Regions from separate parts of the Homo sapiens genome. Here region 1 is linked to region 2. The links come from fine-mapping of genetic effects on gene expression. A gene starts in region 2. The other region holds a variant in brackets. All regions are shown on one strand. Distances are from middle to middle. Region 1 overlaps DLG1 (discs large MAGUK scaffold protein 1). Region 2 holds the start of DLG1 (discs large MAGUK scaffold protein 1).

Evidence for each region.
Region 1: its variant is fine-mapped to the expression of DLG1 in skeletal muscle (GTEx, PIP above 0.99).

What each region holds. Positions count from the first base shown.
Region 1 is chr3:197,173,937-197,184,061 of GRCh38, reverse strand. The region is part of intron 5 of DLG1 (discs large MAGUK scaffold protein 1); the gene reads left to right. Among named protein-coding and RNA genes, the nearest start is that of MIR4797, 110 kb to the left of the region's middle. The variant A/G (reference allele first, on the strand shown) is at 5,160.
Region 2 is chr3:197,294,032-197,303,776 of GRCh38, reverse strand. It overlaps DLG1 (discs large MAGUK scaffold protein 1), which reads left to right and starts at 5,165. Exons shown (of 25, transcript NM_001366207.1): 1 at 5,165-5,241; 2 at 6,542-6,591; 3 at 7,300-7,431. The coding sequence starts at 6,573. DLG1-AS1 (DLG1 antisense RNA 1) reads right to left here and starts at 5,530. Exons shown (of 3, transcript NR_038289.1): 1 at 5,167-5,530; 2 at 4,685-4,799; 3 at 26-1,249. RefSeq lists silencers at 4,989-5,118, 5,609-6,238.

The DNA of each region.
Region 1 (10,125 bases), 120 kb after region 2:
CACCTTATGTCGTCTTTTTTGTCTGCAAAAATAAACTCAGCCATCATACAGCTAACAGGTACAGAGGGAAGATACGAGCTCTTTCATAGGAAGAAATCACTGAGAAAATGAGCATCATTTCTCAAGGTTTTTATTTTCACTGATCTACAAGTGATGCTGCTGTAATTGTAGCTGCAGTTTTTACCGATCATTCACCACTCAGCAGCTGGTAGAGAAGTAAGCCTGCTTGGCAACCACCTGCAGGGCTGCAGAGATGAATTACATTTTCGGAAACAACACACTTCTATACTCTCGCGGCAGTCGAGGAGGCAATACTAGCTCTAGCCATGGCTCAGCAGGCCCAAAGCAGAAACACTGGGCAAAAAAGGGCTCGTCAGATGAACTGCAAGCTGAGCCAGAACCTTCACGCTGGCAGCAGATAGTTGCATTTTTCACTCGAAGACACAGCTTTATTGACTGCATCTCGGTAGCCACCAGCTCCACCCAGGTAACATACCACTTGTTGAAATTATTTTCAATCTATTTCTGTTTACGTTTGCTCTGTAAAAATGTCTTAATATAGATTTTTTATTTAAAGAATAGCCTTGAAACCTTGGATGTGTAGAAATGTATGTTTTCTGTCCATCCGTGTAGGTCTTTAGCACAAAAGGGGGAACAAGAAATATTTTTCCTTATGCTCTTATGTAATACCAAACAAAATAGCCTCAGATTCAATTGAATGACTTTTCTAAAAATATAAGCCCATTGATACATAAAATATGAATTAATAATGCTCATCTCCTTTTTAGACTGTGCTAAATGCTGTAGAGTATGATGTCTGACCAAAGAAAATGCTGATTTGTTTAGTTTTTGTATGTTATTAGATAACCTTAGGGAGACTGTTACAGTAAAGAAACAGAAGATACTTTGAAATATTTTCATTTTTCAGTGTTTTGAAAATAGATTCAATTTAATATAATTGGCTAGTATTATATATACTGACATCTTAGCTATATTATGGCTTATTCAAGGGATTTAATGAATCGTTTTTTGTAAATATTATTTATCTAGCTTAATTTGAAATTAAGTGAACTTGTGCAATTACACAGTCATGGAATATTTTTTCACATAGTCAAATCACAATTTAAAGAGATGAGCAAATACTAAAAGTCTCTCAAAATTAAAAAAAATCACATAACACCACTTTTTGAGGAAATGAGCTATTGTCTATGGGAGGAAAAATAAAGAAAAATTAATAATTGTTTGAAATACCTATTGTTTGCTACAAGGGTGGTTTGAGGAAATATTCATATTTCTAAATATTTTTAAGCAGTCAGTTCAACTTTAGTAAAAATAAAAGGACGAGAAATGGTCTAAAAACAAGTTGAGAATGCATTTGTCCTCTGACATCAGTGATATTTAAATTAGGAAAATACATACATACACATTCCTTAGGACCTTTTAAAATAAATTCCCTTAAAGCTGTCTTTTAAAGAAAATAATAGAAGCAGCTCAATAAATATAAACTATAACTGTCAACAGTTCTATATTTCTTTATATGTTTTTTATAAATTTCTTTACTGTTTTTGGTTACTAGAATTGTCTTTTAATGGTGTTGATTTAAAATAACATCAGCTTTCTTAAGTAAGAAATTCTACTTACTTTTCTCAAATATTTGGGAGAAATGGAATTACCTAGGAAGGGGGAGTCATTATGTAGGCATTGAGGTTAAGTTACAATCAAAACTTATTGAATGGGCAACGATTGATTTAACTCTTAAATTGAATACTGCCCCAAGAATTTTACTAACCTTATTTTGACTGCAATTACATATATCACGAAAGGATGCAAAGACTAAAGGTTGACAATGTTATTCATTGTAGATTAATACTAGATGATATTTTCCATTGTCAACAAGACAGATATCTTTAGAACTTTTTATATATATATATGGTTTATGTAAATGCACACCCTTCTATATATGTATGCACAGATAACACTAGCATTGATATATCTGTCACTCGGTTTATTAAAAGCAGGCAAATGAAAAGACAGGAAAAGTAGTTCATGTATAAAGTGTTGAAACCACAGAGTTACGTTATAGCCGCTTGGGAGTAGGAGCAGAACGTTGCTGTGATTGCGCCAGAAGAGAGTCATGACCCCTGTTCGCAGTCAGCTCTGCAAAGCCATTTTACATGACAGCCCCCACCCAGTTTGGTTCAGAGCATTCCTGTATGCTAGTATATGAGTTATTAATAGTTTTTATTTCTTTCAGACCTCTTTCCTGATTCTCATCTTGTCTTTTTCATTACCTTTCTATTTTATTTCTAGAAATAGGAGTATTAGGGTAGAGGTTTTAGCTTCTGTTTTTCTTGCACTGGAGTACCAACATTTTGTTTTTCATTTTATACATTTTTGTAACTGATACATTGGATAGTTTATATATCTTAATTTTTTTATAACTTACTGGAGTTGATTTGACAAGTTAAAATATAATGGGACTGAAAAATAACTTGAGATATAATTGGATCTTACTTGATACTAGAATACTTTTTTAAATTGCACTTACTGACTCATGGCTGGCAGCTTTCTTTTGCAGCACTAAGGGATTTATTGTTAGAAACAACGTAGATTGAAATTTCATACTTAGAGCATATAATATATACCTATGAATATAATAAGGTCATAGTGTTTTGTACTGCGATTGGTAAATAACAGAGGTCTCTTATTTCACTGATGTCAAAAATACTCTAAGATTTGACAGAAAGATTAACTTTGAATCTAATTCCATATGACTAAGCCACATGATACTTTTTGCAGATTGGAGAGTTGTTATAAATCAAGTTCTATTAGTATGAAAACTATCTGGTTTAGTATCCCCCCCAAATACAGTATGAAAAGTATCTGATTTAATATCCCCCCAAATATACACAATACATAAAAAGAACCTGTACTTATTTTACAGATTCATTTAAATTGCTTGTCTGCTGGAGGTATTCATGTTCATAACTAAGATTATGTGCCATTTTCTACTATGATACTGGAACTCAGGAGGAAGTCATTAATGTTTTTTGAATGATAAGGAAACTGAGTGGTTATAAACTTTTGCAAGACACCTAGCTTCTCAGTTAGGGTTTGGCATGTAGTTGGTGTTAATAAATGCTTATAGAATTAATTAATTTTTATTCCATTCACCTCAAATGTTATCTCCTGGCCTTCCAAAATATGACACCTAATCTAATACCTCTTCAGTACCTGTATTGATTGGATCTTCTCTCTTCCCTCACAAGTGTCTTTGGTTTTTCACAGCAGCCCATCTCCTTTTCCACTGCCTTTTCTTCCCCTCCATTCTTCATACTATCCTCCAGTCACACTGCCCCGATTCCCCTGATTTCCTCACCCCTTTCAGTCCCCACTCAGTAGTGATAACCAAATAGCTTACACACTGTCTCTCAGTTTTATCATTTCATTGTATCTCATTTTACATTGTGGGTTTTTTGAGAGGTTGTTTTATTTTTTAATGTTAAATAAAAATGAGTTTCTTATGAATTACATTGGTGAAACTTTTTCAGTTTGAGGCTTCATAGTGTTTTTGTCCTTAATTTCAAACGATTAGTATAGAAAAAGTTCTCTATGCATTGCGAAGCCCTCCTTGGTTCCGCACCCTCAGCGTCCCTCCTATTCTTGTGTTGAGGGTCACTCAATAATCGGCCCCGTCCTACTTAGCATACACAGTCCTGTTCCAATCTGGGACCAGTTTTTATATTCAGCAGGGTTTTATAGAACTCCAGCACAGTGCTGCTAGACTTTACTTGATTAACGCCTAGGTGAAAAGTTTTATTTACTTAGTGATATCGACGTTTATTAATGTCAGTAGTAATCATATGAACTTTAAATAACTGTGAAGTGTTCAGTCATTTTGAATGTGTGTATAGCAGCTATTCATACATTTTGGACTACTTGAAAATCTCAACATATAGAGCACTATAAATACTCAAAAAGCCCCCCCCCCCCCAAAAAAAAAACACAACATGCCAAATTAAGCTGAGAGCAGCAAAGCTGTATTCTTAGGAATATGGAACAGACATGAAAACTTGTCAGAATTGAAATAGAATAATAAAGTTTTCTTAAAGAGTAAATATTAGCTGAGTTGAATAATCTGCTTAGAGGAAAAACCCTGTCCTAAGTCAAAAATATAGGAAAACATTGTTCAAGTGCCTGTGTGGAAAAATATTTAGGCTAATTTGTACACTTTAAAAAATATTGTTTGTCTGAAACAGATGCCTTCTGAGTTATAGAGGATTTAATTTTTAGAGCTATGCATTGGATATATTGTCCAATAGAGAGAATAACAGTATCAGTGTCATTGAGTCACTTCTACCAAATAATTTAATGTATATATTAATAAAGTACTTAGGACAGCATCTGACACAGAGTAAGTGCTACATTAGAGTTAGGTGCCCCTGTTAGCTTATTTTTATATCATTTAACTCTAATAGTATATGAACAAATTCAGATATAGATTATTAGGAATTATTGCACCTAGGATAGCGCAGTACATTCAAACATTCAGTAAATATTGTTGACTGATTAAGTTAATTTGTAAGTACAAGCCATCCACTTTTTTTAAGAACCAGAGATCTCAACACCTTTAATTACAGGATTTAAGGGAGGTGCCCCAAAGAGCCTTTGAAATTCTTGATGAGACTACCAGTTTTTTGACCTTTCCTCCCCTCCTAGCACTCCCTTCTACAAATTGGTGAAAACCAGTCACGTGTAGATGACTAAATTTAAGTGATTATCCACTTGGTACCAAGCTCCCCTAAGCATCCCCCAAACATATCATGAGGACTATTTTTAGATCCTAAATCCCTTTTAGCCTGTCACCACAGAAAGTCCAGACCATCCGGATTGCAGCTCTGCCTTCTCTATACCAACTCGCAGACTGCACGTTAAACTTCCAATACCTGATTCCTGGTCTTATTCTCAAATAAATAATCTTGCTTTGTGTTCCAGCCTGCTAAAATAAATGAACTGTGTGCCTAAAGCTTACCCATATTCACTTCTGTACTAGATCGTAGTCCCTTTGGTTGTTCAAGAACTTCTGAAATCCCTTTCTCTCTTCACTGCATCATCTGTCTTGCCTCTGTACTGCCCCTAGACTTGCCTCTATAAGTCCT[A/G]TCAGGATGTACACCTGCTATAATATCTTTCATTAAAACAACCATCCAAAAAACCCTCGTTGTGTGAGTGTAGATTATCAAATCCAGTGGCCAGTTCTCAGTGTTCATTTTACTTGACCCTACAACAACTGTTAACACAATTGATTACTCCCTCCTCTAAATTCTTTTTTCTCCTTTGACTCGTGGATAGTACTGCTCTTTTAATATTCTACCAGCCTCATTTTCCTTTATAGTATCCTCCTTTTTCCTACTGCTAAATGTTCAAATGTCTCAGGGCTCAGTCTTTGAACTCTCTTTTTATACTCACATTTCAGGTGATCGCATCTAGTCCTATGCCCTTAAATACCATCAGTATTTCTCTTTATTCCAGAGTTAATCCCTGTACATTAGACTTTTATATCTAACTTTCTACTCAGTATCTCCACTTCGGTTAAGCATCTGAAAGGTAACATATTAAAAAGAGAATTTCTAGTTTTATTGGTCTCAATCTTCTTTATTCAGTATGCCATTCACTAAGATGCTGAAGACAAAAACCCTTAAAATTATCTTTTATTCCTTTTTTCTTTGCTCCGTATCCAGTCTGATGCCAAATCCTGTTGGCTTTTTATTCAAGATATATTTATGATTTGGCCACTTTTCAACACTTCTGCAACTACTGATTCAATAATATGTTGCCTGAACTACAGCAGTAGACATCTAACTTCTCTCGTTAATATTTTTTGCTTCCTCTAAGGTAGCACCCCTTCACTCCAGACATTACTCTGTCTTCTTACCTGATTCTTTATTATACATTTTTTACTGTCTTTTTACTTGACTGTCAGCTCCATGTGGGTGGGATTTTTCTGTTATGTTTATTGTTGTATCCTCAGTTTCTGTGACAGTGGCTGGCACACTGTAGATAACCAGAAAATATTTGTTGAATGAGTGAAGAGACAGGGACATACGAACTTGTGCTAAGGAGGGCCCAAGCAGGTGTGTTTGTCTGTCTTTTCCCTTAGACTTTCTGTGAAGCGCGCATCACACTTTATTTAGCATTGTAATAGTTCTCTAACTGATGATTCTTACTTGCCCTCTGAGAAGAAATACACACAAGGAAATGAGGTAGGGAGAGAAGAGAATTCAATTTCCTCAAAACTGGGATAACTATATAACTCAGACCAAACTAGGATACTTTAATGAAAAGAGGGAATCATTAATAATTAAAGTGAGACAACAGGCATAAATACAGACTTCCCAAGTAAATAGAGGCATATGGGGTCACTCTGTTATAACCATTTATTTTCTGACTATTCCCACCAGGCAACAGGTCTGAAATTCACACCAAGACATCTCCATCTTGGACCATCCTAGATTGATTGACCTAACCGTGTTATCGGTACATACCACATTCATTTTGTCTCATGTGTAATGATAATTGTGTTTTGATAAAATATTTTTTCTTCATCTCCAAGGAATGGAATTGTTCATATTCATTAGTGTAGTGCTTTTGTACTAAAAAGTAGACTACGTATAGGGTAGGTAGACAATCTTCTTAAACTGCTTTGAAAATACTGACTCTAATTGATAGGTTATTTTCCAGAGAAATTGGTGGAAATAGTCTCCTTTGGTATTGACTCCCCAAACATTCACAGTTTGGATGGAAACGCTGTTGTACTGGCTGTGAGATGCTGACCCTTGGCAGACACATTTGTTTCTTAATTTTCTACTCAAAAGGCTACTAACTTTGCGAAATTAATATGATGACTCAGACTTGGAAATCAATTGTTCCCCCTTTGACACAAAAAATATTGTAGGATCTATTTTATGTTTCTGTTTTTCTGGAAACTTTTACAGTGCACCTACATGTACTGACTCAAAAATTGGTTCTTAAACACTGTTTCAACACATTTTTATCATTTGTACAATAAATAAAAATAAATAAAAAATAATATAAAAAATAAAAATAAAATTTATATCATTTGTTCAATAGGACACTCTAGAAAAGCATAGAGATGAAGATTAAACCAAAAGTAGTTGGTTACAATGGTTATATAAGCTTTTTTAAATTACAAAATTGACCATACGATCCAGCAGTTGTACTCCTTGGTATTTGCCCAAATGAATTGAAAGCTTACATCCACCCAAAAACCTGTACAGAGATGTTTATAACAGCTGTGTTCATAATTGCCAAAACCTAGAAGCAACCAACATATTCCTCAGTGTGTGCATGGATAAAGTGTGGTGCATTCAGACAATGGAATATCACCCAGCACTAAAAGAAATGAGCTATCAAGCCATGAAAAGACATGGAGGAACCTTAAATGAATATTACCAGGTGAAAGAAGCCAACCTGAAAAGGATACACACCCTTGTTTCCAACTAGATGACGTTCTGGAAAAGGCAAAACTATGGAAACAATAAAAAGATCAGTGGTTGCCAGGGGTTAGGTGAGAGGGATAAATAATAGAGCACAGAGGATTTTTAGGACAGTAAAGCCATTCTGTATGATACTATAATGGCGGAAACGTCATTAAACACATGTCAAAACCCATGGAATATCCAGCCCCCACAGTCAACTCTCATGTAAATTATGGACTTTGTGATGTGGCAGTGTGGGCTCATTGATTGTAACAAATGTACATTAGAAATGCAGGGGTGTTGATTATGGATAGTTTATGTGTGTGAGCAGGGGGCATATGGGAACTAAAACTGCTCTAAAAAAATATATAAAGTCTATTAAAAACTATAAAATTGGTGTCTTAATGTAGATTAGATTGGCTTAGCTTGAAGACATTTGAAATTTATGATATAAGGTCTTTATAGTTAGGAAATGTGTTTTATTCTTCTTTGTAGCTTCTGTATAGTGTCTTGATTGTTTAGATGGCGTTTCTGTCAAGGATAGATAGGCAAAAAGAAGTTTCACAGGCTATAATTTATATATTCTAAATATATTCAGAGAAGTTTTAAAGTTAACCTTTAAAATAATGTGTTAATAACAGTGCTGAAAAGTGACTGAACCATGCTTATGGGATCAGGGCAAGTCAGCCTGAGCAACATTTTTCTCCTGTATTTTCAAGTAATGTTTGTTTGCATGAGAATTGTACTTCATACCTCTTATCACGACTCTAATTCAGTAGTCATTTGGATAATGATTTTGTTTAATGTCAGCCACTAAACTGTAAGTTTCACAAGAGCTGATGCTACAGGGTGTGTGGTTTTTTCCCTTGGTATCCCCAGAGCCTCGCATGGAGAATGCACTTGATAAATATTTGTTGAATGAATAAACAGATGTTATACAGGTGTTAATTTTTATTTAATCTGCTGTTGACGAAGTGGAAGTTTGGAACTTCTAAATATTGTTGGATCACTGTAAATTTCCCAAGCCATTTTTATGTAACACTATGGCTTAAAAACTAGCAAGTCTATGTTACCAGATTTTGTAAAGTTGTGAATTTCAGAAGTAATTCAGATCCTTCTGTGAAAAAATTGTGAAGCATTTATACTCTTACATATCTGAAGAACTTAAATTTTTATCATGAAAATTTTACTTAGTATCAGTCTCTTTAAATAAATTTTCTTAAATTATTCCTTGTACTTCCTGGCACTATTATTTAGATAACATTTCCAGCCCTCCATTTTTATAGCAAAGTTTAGAATTTTGATAAAGGTAAAAATAGTTGTTCAGACTATGTAGAGAACAGTAGCCTACAGTTACCACCTTTTAAAGAAAACTTTAAACCAACTGATGTGGTAATTTTAACAGGCGTATGCAAATACAAACCAACTGGCAGTGCCACCTGGGAGCAGTGGAATTTTATAGAAGCCTATACACGCAACTTGCCCCTCCAGGCATTTATTTAAAAGATTTTCCCTCCTCACTTCGTAACAGGAGCACTTCCTATTCATTCTTTTTCCTTTAAGCCCCAATTTGGTAGCATTTCTGAACAGTATTTTCAGTATCTGTGAAATCAAAACTCTGACTTCTTGACTGGAGCAGCTTTGAAATGTGAAGAAGTTACAGCTGTGACAGAGTGGAACCAAATGATTGCTTTACAATTTGTGTTGTTTTGTTGTTCTGAGAAAAAGAATTGGGGATTATAACCTGGTGTTTAATTATTTGTTAATTTTTTTTTAACAGCCACGTTCAAGAGCAATAAACTGGCATTTAAATTAAAACAGATCCCACCCTCATTTATCTGTATATAAATCTGACTAATCTTGGTAGGATGATCTGATGTATCAAAGGGTTATAAATTTGGAAAGAAATCAGTTGGAAAGTATTTTGTAAGATAGAAAGAAAACAAACAAGATGCATATCAATATTAAGAATTAATTGCTTTAGCCAAACTAAGTACCATAGCAGGATTTTGAAGGGAGAACAAAGAAAAGAGAATAAAAATCATATCATTTTAATCACTTTTTTTCCAAACTGGAAGGCTATATTCAGTATAGAGGCAAAATTTTTTCAGTTGTAAGAGCACAGCTTTATTATATAGACTTTTTAATTAAAGATATTTTAAAGAACTGTAGGTGAAACTTGAAATTTCCATATGTATATCTTGTTTCCTTGTTTTTTAAATTGTCGCTTCCATGGTTTTTGGGGAGAGAGAATTGGCTTATTTTTATTGTAGACTAAGAATTGCAACAGAATTAAACCATTTATAGTTAGTAAAAGTTAACTTAGGTGTCTTAAAGCCATTTTCTATTTTCTTCATTGACTTATTTAGCCTTTTCTTTCTCCTTTTTTAAAAGCAGCTAAAGCAGGAGTCAGCAAGCTACAATCTGTAGGCCAAATGTAGCCTGCCACCTGTTTTTGTAAATAAATGTTTTGTTTTGTTTTTGAGACAGAGTCTCACTGTGTCGCCCAGGCTGGAGTGCAGTGGCGCGATCTCAGCCCACTGCAATTTCCACCTCCCGGGTTCAAGTGATTCTTATGCCCCAGCCTCCTAAGTAGCTGGGATTACAGATGTGCACCACCATACCTGAC
Region 2 (9,745 bases):
ATACACCACTCTGTGCCCAGTGTTTTTTGTTTTGTTTTGTTTAATTTAGAAAAGGAGCCAAGTAGAGAAAAAGCAGCATAGATTAATCGAAGAAACAATGAACTAATGTTCAGCCCAGCTCCAGCCAGCTGTGGGGTCCTAAACCAAGTTATCTCAGTTTCCTCTTCCTCTGTGCTCTCCTTTGCAAAGTGGGAGACCATAACCAACGAGTTTATCTTATCGGTTGCTGTGGACCTGCAGTGAGTTAAATCTGCCTTTGAACACTGTATGAGAGGCTATACCACTCTCCGGATAGACCAGTTTACACGGGAGGCAGTTATTAGTCCTATGCTGATTTAGTACTCCATTATACCACACTCCAGGAATCTTAGGGTGGCTCTTCCATTAAAAAGCATTAATTCAGTGCCTAACTACCTATCATGGAGATGGTCAACTGTCCACATTTTAAAGGGAATTGGTTTCAACCTGTAGCTTTTATTCTGTTAAGAATTATCTATGAGAAAGAGATCAGTCTTGGTACCACCAAAACTGGGTAGAACGAATTCTTGATGTAGACTAAAGGGTGCTAATACCATTTCAGTATTCAGCAGGGACTGAGGTTTCAACAGCTTAGAACTGTGGTCTCAGAGGTCACGTGGTTCAACCTTATGTCCTGGGTATCTACCACCCTCTGACACAGAATCCTTGCTGGCTTCATTCAGCACCTTCCTGATTAAAAAAAAAAAAAAATTTCCACTACCTTGAGGCAGCTCTTTGGAATTTTGGACAGTTTCTGACAACTCATGTTAAGGAAAAACTTCCTGTGTTTGTCCATTGGTTGAATTTTCATCCATTGACTGTACTTGCCCACTGGGTACACAGAATAAGCCTGTTTGATGACTGCAGCTCCCTGGAGACTTCTGTTTTTCCAATGAAATGGCCCTAGATTGTACAGTTGTTTCCTGATTGCTGTGGTTACTCTCTTCTTTCCACATGCTGGTTTGTTCAGATTCCTTTAAAAGCGTGCTGCTAAGCAATGCCCCCTAGGCTCTCATGGAGGTCTGACCAATATGTCCACTTTCAACATACTTGACACTGTTCCTCTTCCTGCAGCCTAAGCTGGCATAAGCTTTTTTGACAGCATTAAATCCTTTCCTTTTAGTGATTGCCTTGGCACAGGCAGCATGCTGCTACCCTGCTGGAGTGAAAGCAAAAGATGCAGCGGAGTCTGGCAGGACCTGGACACCTTCATAGATTTATAAGCTGGGGCCTAGATGGAGGAGAAGACAAAGACAGAGATGTGAAGCTGCAAAGGTGGCTTGGGCAGGATGGTTGGGAAGGGAAGGGTTGGAACTTAGAGACAGTATCTTTGACATTGACTCTCTGACATTTCAATAAAAGAATGGGAAATCTGAGCCTTTCCCCATGGTCTTTGACTCCGAAGCCTTTTAAGCTCTTCAAAAGGCAAGTTAACTTGGAGCTGGAAAGTGAACAGCTTTACCTGCTAGTATTTTGTTGAAGTAACTTCTTCTATTCGTCTATCTAACTATCGATAGACAGACAGATAGGACAGATATAGATAGATAGATAGATAGATAGATAGATAGATAGATAGATAGATGATAGATAGATAGATAGATATAGTGTGTGTGTATATATATATATATTTAATGAGGAAGTTGGAAAATTAGATCCAATATTGTGTCCTATTCAATGGCAGCTGCTCACTGCACAAAGTAAGGAAAACTTTGAGGAAATAAAAGTTGCTTAGAAAAATCCAGATGTCAGGGCTGGGTGCAGTGGCTCACACCTGTAATCCCAGCACTTTGGGAGGCTGAGGCGGGTGGATCACGAGGTCAGGAGATCGAGACCATCCTGGCCAACATGGTGAAACCCCGTCACTACTAAAATACAAAAAATTAGCTGGGCGTGGTGGCACATGCCTGTAGTCCCAACAACCCAGGAGGCTGAGGCAGGAGAATAGCTTGAACCCGGGAGGCAGAGGTTGCAGTGAGCCGAGATCGTACCACTGCACTCCAGCCTGGCAACAGAGCAAGACTCGGTCTAAAAAAAAAAAAAAAGAAAAGAAAAATCCAGATGTCATTGCTTTGTATGTTGTGATGATGTGGTAGCCAGCTCCAAGAAGATGGCCTCCAGTGAGTCTTACTTTCTGGTATTCATATCCTTGAGGCTGATCTAAGTAACTGATCGGATATTATGGAGTATGCTATGGTCTGAATGTTTGTGTCCTTCTTAAATTAATACGTTGAAATCTTCACCTTCAAAGTGATCATATTAAGAGATGAGGCTTTTGGGAGGTGATTAGGTCTTGAAAGTGGAGCTCTTCTAAATGGGATTAGAGCCTTTATAAAAGATGCCAGATAGAGCTTGTTAGTCCCTTGCACCATGGGAAGATGTAGCAAGAAGGCTCCATTCATGAGGAATGGGGCTATTACCAGACACTGAATCTCTTGGTGTTTTTTTTTTTTTTTTTTTTTTTTTTTTTTTTTTTTTTTTTAAGACAGAGTCTTGCTCTGTCGCCCAGGCTGGAGTGCAGTGGCGCGATCTCGGCTCACTGCAACCTCCGCCTCCCGGATTCAAGCAATTCTCTGTCTCAGCCTCCTGAATAGTTGATTACAGGTGCCTGCTACCATGCCTGGCTAATTTTTATATTTTTAGTAGAGACGGGGTTTCACAATCTTGGCCAGGCTGGTCTTGAACTCCTGACCTCGTGATCCACCTGCCTTGGCCTCCCAAAGTGCTGGATATTACAGGCATGAGCCACCGCGCCTGGCCATTTTTTTTTTTTTAATTTTTATTCTCATGACTGTTAGATCACATCTGATGGTGTTTTGATCTTGGACTACTTAGTCTCTAGAGCTGTAATACATTCCTGTTGTTTATAAATCACCCAGTCTAAGGTATTTTGTTATAGCAGCCCAAACAGACTATGACAGAGTGTCACTTTTGAGACTAAGTGATGAAAGGCATTGTGGCTTCTTCTGTCTCGCCATCTTGAATCACTTGCTCTGTTGGACGTCAGCCGCTACGTCATGAAGACACTCAAGCAGCCCTATAGAAAGGTCTTCATGGTGAGAAATTGAAGCCTCCGCCCAATAGCCAGCATCAACTTACTAGCTATGTGAATGATCCATGCTGAAAGAGCCTCCCGTAGTCCCCCTGAAGCCTTCAGATGACTGCAGCCCTGGCAGGCTTCTTGACTGCAACATCATAATGCCCTGAGCCAAAACCACCCAACTATGCCGCTCCTGAATTCCTGACACACAGAAACTGAGATAATATTTATCGCTGTTTAACTTACTAAGCTAATAAGTTTTAAACCCTTAAGCTTTGAGGAACTTTTTTTTTATCCAGCAATAAGTAACTAATAAAGATGGGTAGAAAGGAGGAATGAAGAGTAAAGAGCCTTTATTCATTGTTCATATATGTTCATTTGCTAGGCACTTGCTGCCGGCACCTTAGGCTAAGGGTAGAACAAGTGCTGGGTTCACTGCTGCTTTTGTACACCGCTGACAACCAAATAGGGCTGTCACACAGAATGACAAGAAAAAAGGACACGTCCTCTTTCCTCCCCTTCCTCCTTTTTGCTTTTAGGGGAAGGCTAGGATGACATTGAGAACTCACACAAATTTTGTTTTTGACTCCTCAGTGTCCCCTGGGAAAAGGTGCATTGGCCTTTGTGTACTTGCTACAAGGCTGTGTATCCTTGAGAGCAGGACTCGGATCTTATTTATTTCTATCCCCGTTTCCTAGCAAGTGAACATATATGAACAATAAATGTTATCAAGGGAGAGGGCAAATTTCCCTCCCTGTTTCTTCTGAATTCTGAAGAGATTCCATTGTTAGAATGGTTTCTTACTGCAACCATCCCATTCACAGTCCATCAGCGAAGTCTTGAGAGTATGATGCCTGTCATGAGCCACTTTCACTACTAAATAAATTCCGTCCCTCTGTTAAGTTCCCGGCTGTTAGGACACCTCTGCCTTCAGCACCGTTTGACCCTTCTATCCCATTTTCTCTATGCAATGTTGCTTTAACTGTTGTTCAAGATCCCAGGATGCTTGATCCGGGAAAGCACAGAGGTCTGCTGCCAACATACCAACATACCTCTCTGTCAAGTTGTCCAAAATCACAAGAGAAAGAGCCCTGGACTAGAGCTAGGAGACCTGAGTTCTCGGCTGCTCTGTTACTGATTAGCGTCTATGTCCTTGGACAAGTTGCTTCCCTTTTTCCGGACCTCGGTTCCTTGTCCTAGATAGGTTCTAAAGTCGGTGGGTCCTTACAGTAAGTTAGGATTCTAAGGTGCAATCCAAAAGTAAAACCAGTGGTCAGTATACCTCTGAGTAGCTGTTAAGGTTACAATACGAGGTTCCTCGGCCTTCCCTTTGGTAGCCAATGGATACGGCCTCAGTCAGAGGCCGTCAGGTTTACTGGGAAGAGCCTTCCGGTTTTGAAAGACAGGATCTCCGGGTTTCCAGTTCTGTCACTCACTCGGGGTAACTTTGGGCAAATTCTCTCTGGACCTCCTAATAGGGAGGTCCTCGTCACCCCGAGGAAGTTCGAAGACGTGGGCAGTGACTTGGAAAGCTTCCCGAGATTCCCCTTCTATAACCTGGGTGGCTCAGACCGGGAGCGGGGTCCCAGCCGGCCGGTAATTCCGCCCGGAGGTGCGCACGAAACAAACCTGCAGCGCTGGCCGAGGGCGGCTCAGCTTCGGAGGGCGCGACTCCGGGTGAGTTCTTAAAGGGACCGTCAGAGTTTGGGTAACACCTGCGATGCTGACCGGGCGGGGACGCAGGCTTGAGGGAAATGAATGAATGAATGAATGAGCGAATGAATGAACAAACCTTCTCTGCCCACCCTTAAGTATACCATACTCGGAATTAATCAGTTAGGCTTAAAAATCTTGTACTATAACCCTCAAACTCTTGCCAAGTTAACCAGTGTCTCTATTTCATATGTCCTTCTGTAATGAAACCCCTCCCCCCAAGCCTATTACTAAGGGACGAAGAGTAACTTAACAATCAGCCTGGAGTGGAAGGCAATGCAGAGTTGGCACCCCTCCCCGAACTCCTCCCTCTCCCTCTCCCAGGCCCCGCCCTCCCCGCCCCCTGGGAGGTGCAGTTGGCTCCTCCTTAAGGCGGCTTTTCCCCGGTGGGGATCTACCCCCGGGGTCGCCAGGCGCTGTCTCTGCCGCGGAGTTGGAAACGGCACTGCTGAGTGAGGTTGAGGGGTGTCTCGGTATGTGCGCCTTGGATCTGGTGTAGGCGAGGTCACGCCTCTCTTCAGACAGCCCGAGCCTTCCCGGCCTGGCGCGTTTAGTTCGGAACTGCGGGACGCGCCGGTGGGCTAGGGCAAGGTAAAGGCGGGCTCCTCCAGGGCCACCCCGGGCCACCTGTGGAGTCCGAGTGTTAACTCCTTTGTTCTCAGAGCCACTTCAGCGGCCGCCCTTTTAAGCGAAGAGGTTCCCTTAGGATGCTCCCCGGGTACCCCTTCCGTTCCCCTGCCCTCCCCCGACCCGCCTCCCCCTTCCAACCCGAAGGTAGCAGCGCGGGGAGCCCGGGGCTCGGCGCGAGCCGCCTCCTCACTTCCCATTGGCTGAGAGCGCCGGGAAAGCGGTCACGTGGGAGCGCGGCAGGCCAGCTCGGGGGCCGCCATCTTGGCGGAAAGTTTCGGGGGAGAGCGGTTGGGGGCGCGGAAGGAGGCGAGGTTCCGGGGGTGGGGCGTGCGGCAGCAACTGGGCGAGCGGGCCGGGGGGCCGCGGCGAGCGAGGAGGCGGCGCGGCCGAGAAGGAGGACGAGGCCGCGGGGGTGCGGCGGCCCAGGGGAGCTCCTCCCCCGTCCCTTCGCCCCCTCCGCTCGGCTCCGCGGGCCCCGGGCGGGGCGGGGGTACGTGGAGCGGGGCCGGGCTGGGGAGCTGCTCCGAGTCTGGCCGGGGCGCACCCCAGTTCCGAGCGCACGCCGCTCACCGGAACTTTGTGGCGGCGCCGCAGGTGTGGGGGCCCGCGGAGGTGTGCATGCGGGGCGCGAGGGCGTCGCGGAGAGCGGCCGCTGCCCTGTCCGGCCCCCGCTGGAGCAGCCCGGAGGCAGCGAGCAAGGAGAAAGGCAAGCGAGAGGAGGGGGCCCGAGCAGGGCGGGCGGCCAGTCCCGCTGGTCCCCTCTCAGCGCTCTGCGGCCGCTGCTGGCTCAGGGGCCAAGGGTCGGAGCGCTTCACCCGCCCGTACCCAGTAGCAGGTGGGGAGTGTGGATACTTGTGCGGGGGAAGAGGCGGCCTCAGGTCTAGGCTCTTTGGGGAGGGGACGCTTTCGAGGAGAGTTTGGAAGCCGACTTCTGTCTGTTCTTAATTTGGAGGGGTACCCACTCCAAGGAAAAGCTTTCCACGTTGACAGACAACTGCTGCGTTTTGAGACTCTTTCTTTGACTTGGTAAAACTTTGGAACGTGGGGTTTTCAAATAGGCTGCGAGGGTTTTCTATTTCGATAGGGGAAAATGCTAGTTTAACATGATTCTATCCTTTTTCCTTTCCGTTGTGTGTTTTAAAGGTGTGTGCCCTCTTCCTGATTCTGGAGAAAAATGCCGGTCCGGAAGCAAGGTGAGAGTTTATTCCGTAACTCTGTTGTCGATGTCACTTGCTTTTCCGTGTGTCAGTTTTTTGATTGCCGTTTTAGAATCGTTTGTGTAACTTTGATGAGACAGCACGGTCCTAGCTTTATTGCTTAGGGAATCTAAGCCTCATATCATTTCAGAAGATGGAAACACGAAAATGTTTGTTAAACTTTCTTAACATTTCTCTAGTGATTAAGAGAGGCAGTTAGCCCCCCCCCAACAGATGTCCTTAATAACCCTGAATTGGTGTTTTAGTATTTCACTCTATCATTCTTACTAAGCACTATTCTGTAAGCAACTGTGGGATACTAAGAATTTGTATTTTGAAATGTTAAAAATTTGGATTATGATGACAAATTGTAGATAATCTGCTTTTGCATTATCAGGTAATCTGAAACTGTTGCTAATACTTTGATCTTTTACTTTGGCAAACTACCAGTACACATTTATTCCAAACTGCTCACTCTCCTCCGTTTTCTAATGTGATATATGTTTAAATTTTTCTTGTATTTCTTTAATTTTTTTTTTTATTTTTTGGTCATTCTAAGGAATATGTGTACATGAACATAGTGACATCAATTGACCTGAAGGATTTGCGGAACTATTTAGATGTCATGCAGAATTATTTGCACTAGTATGTGATACTTTTTTTGTAAATAGAGAGTTTTAATCAGGCTCTGCTTTTTCTTCTCAGATACCCAGAGAGCATTGCACCTTTTGGAGGAATATCGTTCAAAACTAAGCCAAACTGAAGACAGACAGCTCAGAAGTTCCATAGAACGGGTTATTAACATATTTCAGAGCAACCTCTTTCAGGCTTTAATAGGTGGGAATTAAAACTTCGTAACTATTATGCCAGCTAGGCTTTATGCTCCTCTCAATTCATTTATTTTAAACTTAAGAAAATGATGTACTTAATTCTCTGAGGCATTCGGTAACTTGAACATCTTCAGTGAGTTGTGTGTTTTTCATAGGCCAGTGTCCTTTCTTAAAATAACTAGTAACCAAAAAACTTTCAGGATTATTTCAGTGGCTTTTGAGAACATTGTTTCACATCTTAATAGCATTAACTATTAAAAGATGTTGCACAGATGTTTAAGGACCTAAAAGGTATGACTGAGTTACTGTGAGCTTGTTTCTGTATTTGACTGGCATGTCTCTGAAGTCATTGAAAGCGTGTGAAGGGTTCTGCTGTGTTGAAGAACATTCATTCCCTTAATGTAGATTTCTGTTTGAGCTTGGCATTCATGGAGTCAGAATTTTAGACCTGGAAAATAATCTTAGAGATGATCTTGTCTAGTAACCGTATTTTACAGGCAAGAAAATGGAAAGTTTTATTCTTAATTGTAACTTAATTTGAAGTGGTGCATTGTTTGAAAGAACTGGAAAAATAAGAGTCCTGAGTTCTTTTGCCACTAATTGAATGATATATCCCAAGTCATTTAATCTTTTCTATGCCACCATATTAGCTGTAGAATGTAGCTGTTGAAATGACAGAATGGGTTTAAAGCCTTTTTTAAGTAGATAAATCATTTTTAAAAGCATCATCTCATATTTTGTGTATAATCTCCTATGTATAAAACAAGGTGACTTGTCTGGCTCTTTTGTCCAGGTACCTCAAAAAGTTTGCAAACCACCGAACTAGAAAGTTTGTCTCTTCCAATTCTAAGAATGAAGTTTTTTTTTTTTGTTTTAGTTATCAACTATATAACATTTTAACATAAGAAGACATATACTTAATTATATTACATTTATTTCTTCAGTAACTTCCAGTCAGATATGGCCTTACATCTATCTGTTGATAGAATAATTGTTGGTGTGATTTGAAGACTACTTTCAAGTCAGTGTGTCCTGTCAGGTACATTATTGATAAATGGATGCTCTCTACGGTTTTAGAATGAAAGATTTTTGTAAAGACCACTTGATGCACCTGAACAATTTTGAAAAATGTAACATTTTAATAGACTTTTAAAAACATAAGGATACATAGCACAGTGTAATGAACTGCCTTTTAACTGTTACCCAGCTCCAGAAATTCACATTTTGCCATTTTTGTTTACATTGATGGACATTTTTTACACATTTGAATTTCTGAGGTTTAAGGTCCGAATGGATGATCAAATTGGATTCCTCTGGAAAAACAGCAAAAAGCATTTTTTAGTTATTTGTTTTCTAAATCAACATTGAGCCTAGTAATTTGGTGCAGTTACTGTTGCAAAAAAAGTATGTTTTTTCGCAACAGTATAGAGATATATATATACATATATGTATAGATAGGCAGATAGATAGACTGCAGACTTTTCTTTGTGTGATGGCTGTAACTTAAGAAAATTAAATCGTTAGTGAAATAACAGAATCTACATTTATATTTCTGTCTAGATTGGGGATGGGTTTGCTGTGTTCAGAGACATTTTTGACCTATTCTGCCTTGCCTGTTTTGAATGTGTCTATTCTTACGTACAATTGAACTTTGATAGAGTTAGCTTTCTTCTCTTTTTTTTTTTTTTTTTTTTTGAGGCAGAGTCTCACTCTGTCACCCAGGCTGGAGTGCAGTGGCGAGATCTCCGCTCACTGCAAGCTCCGCCTGCCAGGTTCACGCCATTCTCCTGCCTCAGCCTCCTGAGTAGCTGGGACCAAAGGTGCCCACCACCACGTCCGGCTAATTTTTTATTTTTTGTATTGTATTTTTAGTAAAGACGGGGTTTCACTGTGTAAGCCAGGATGGTCTCGATCTCCTGACCTCGTGATCCACCCACCTCGGCCTCCCAAAATGTTGGGATTACAGGCGTGAGCCACCGCGTCTGGCCTAGAGTTAGCTTCCTAATTACTAAGTTTATATTTGTGAATCTTCTAATTTCATTGGTTGTGAATTTACTTTGACATTTAAATTTACTTATATTTAATGTTCTATAGGATGTGGTACTATATCACATTTTGGTGTAAGACAAGTAATAGATTTTAGGAGTTTTGAAATAGATAACGTTTAATAGAGGTTCTGTGTGTTTCCATGCTATAATTGTTGATACTACGGAATAAATACATTCTCTTGTGTTTCCTGAATAACTTTTAATACTTAGTCTGAAAATGTTTAGTCTGATAAGATTTTCTTTGTATTTTGCAACTCTACCATTGTTTTGAAA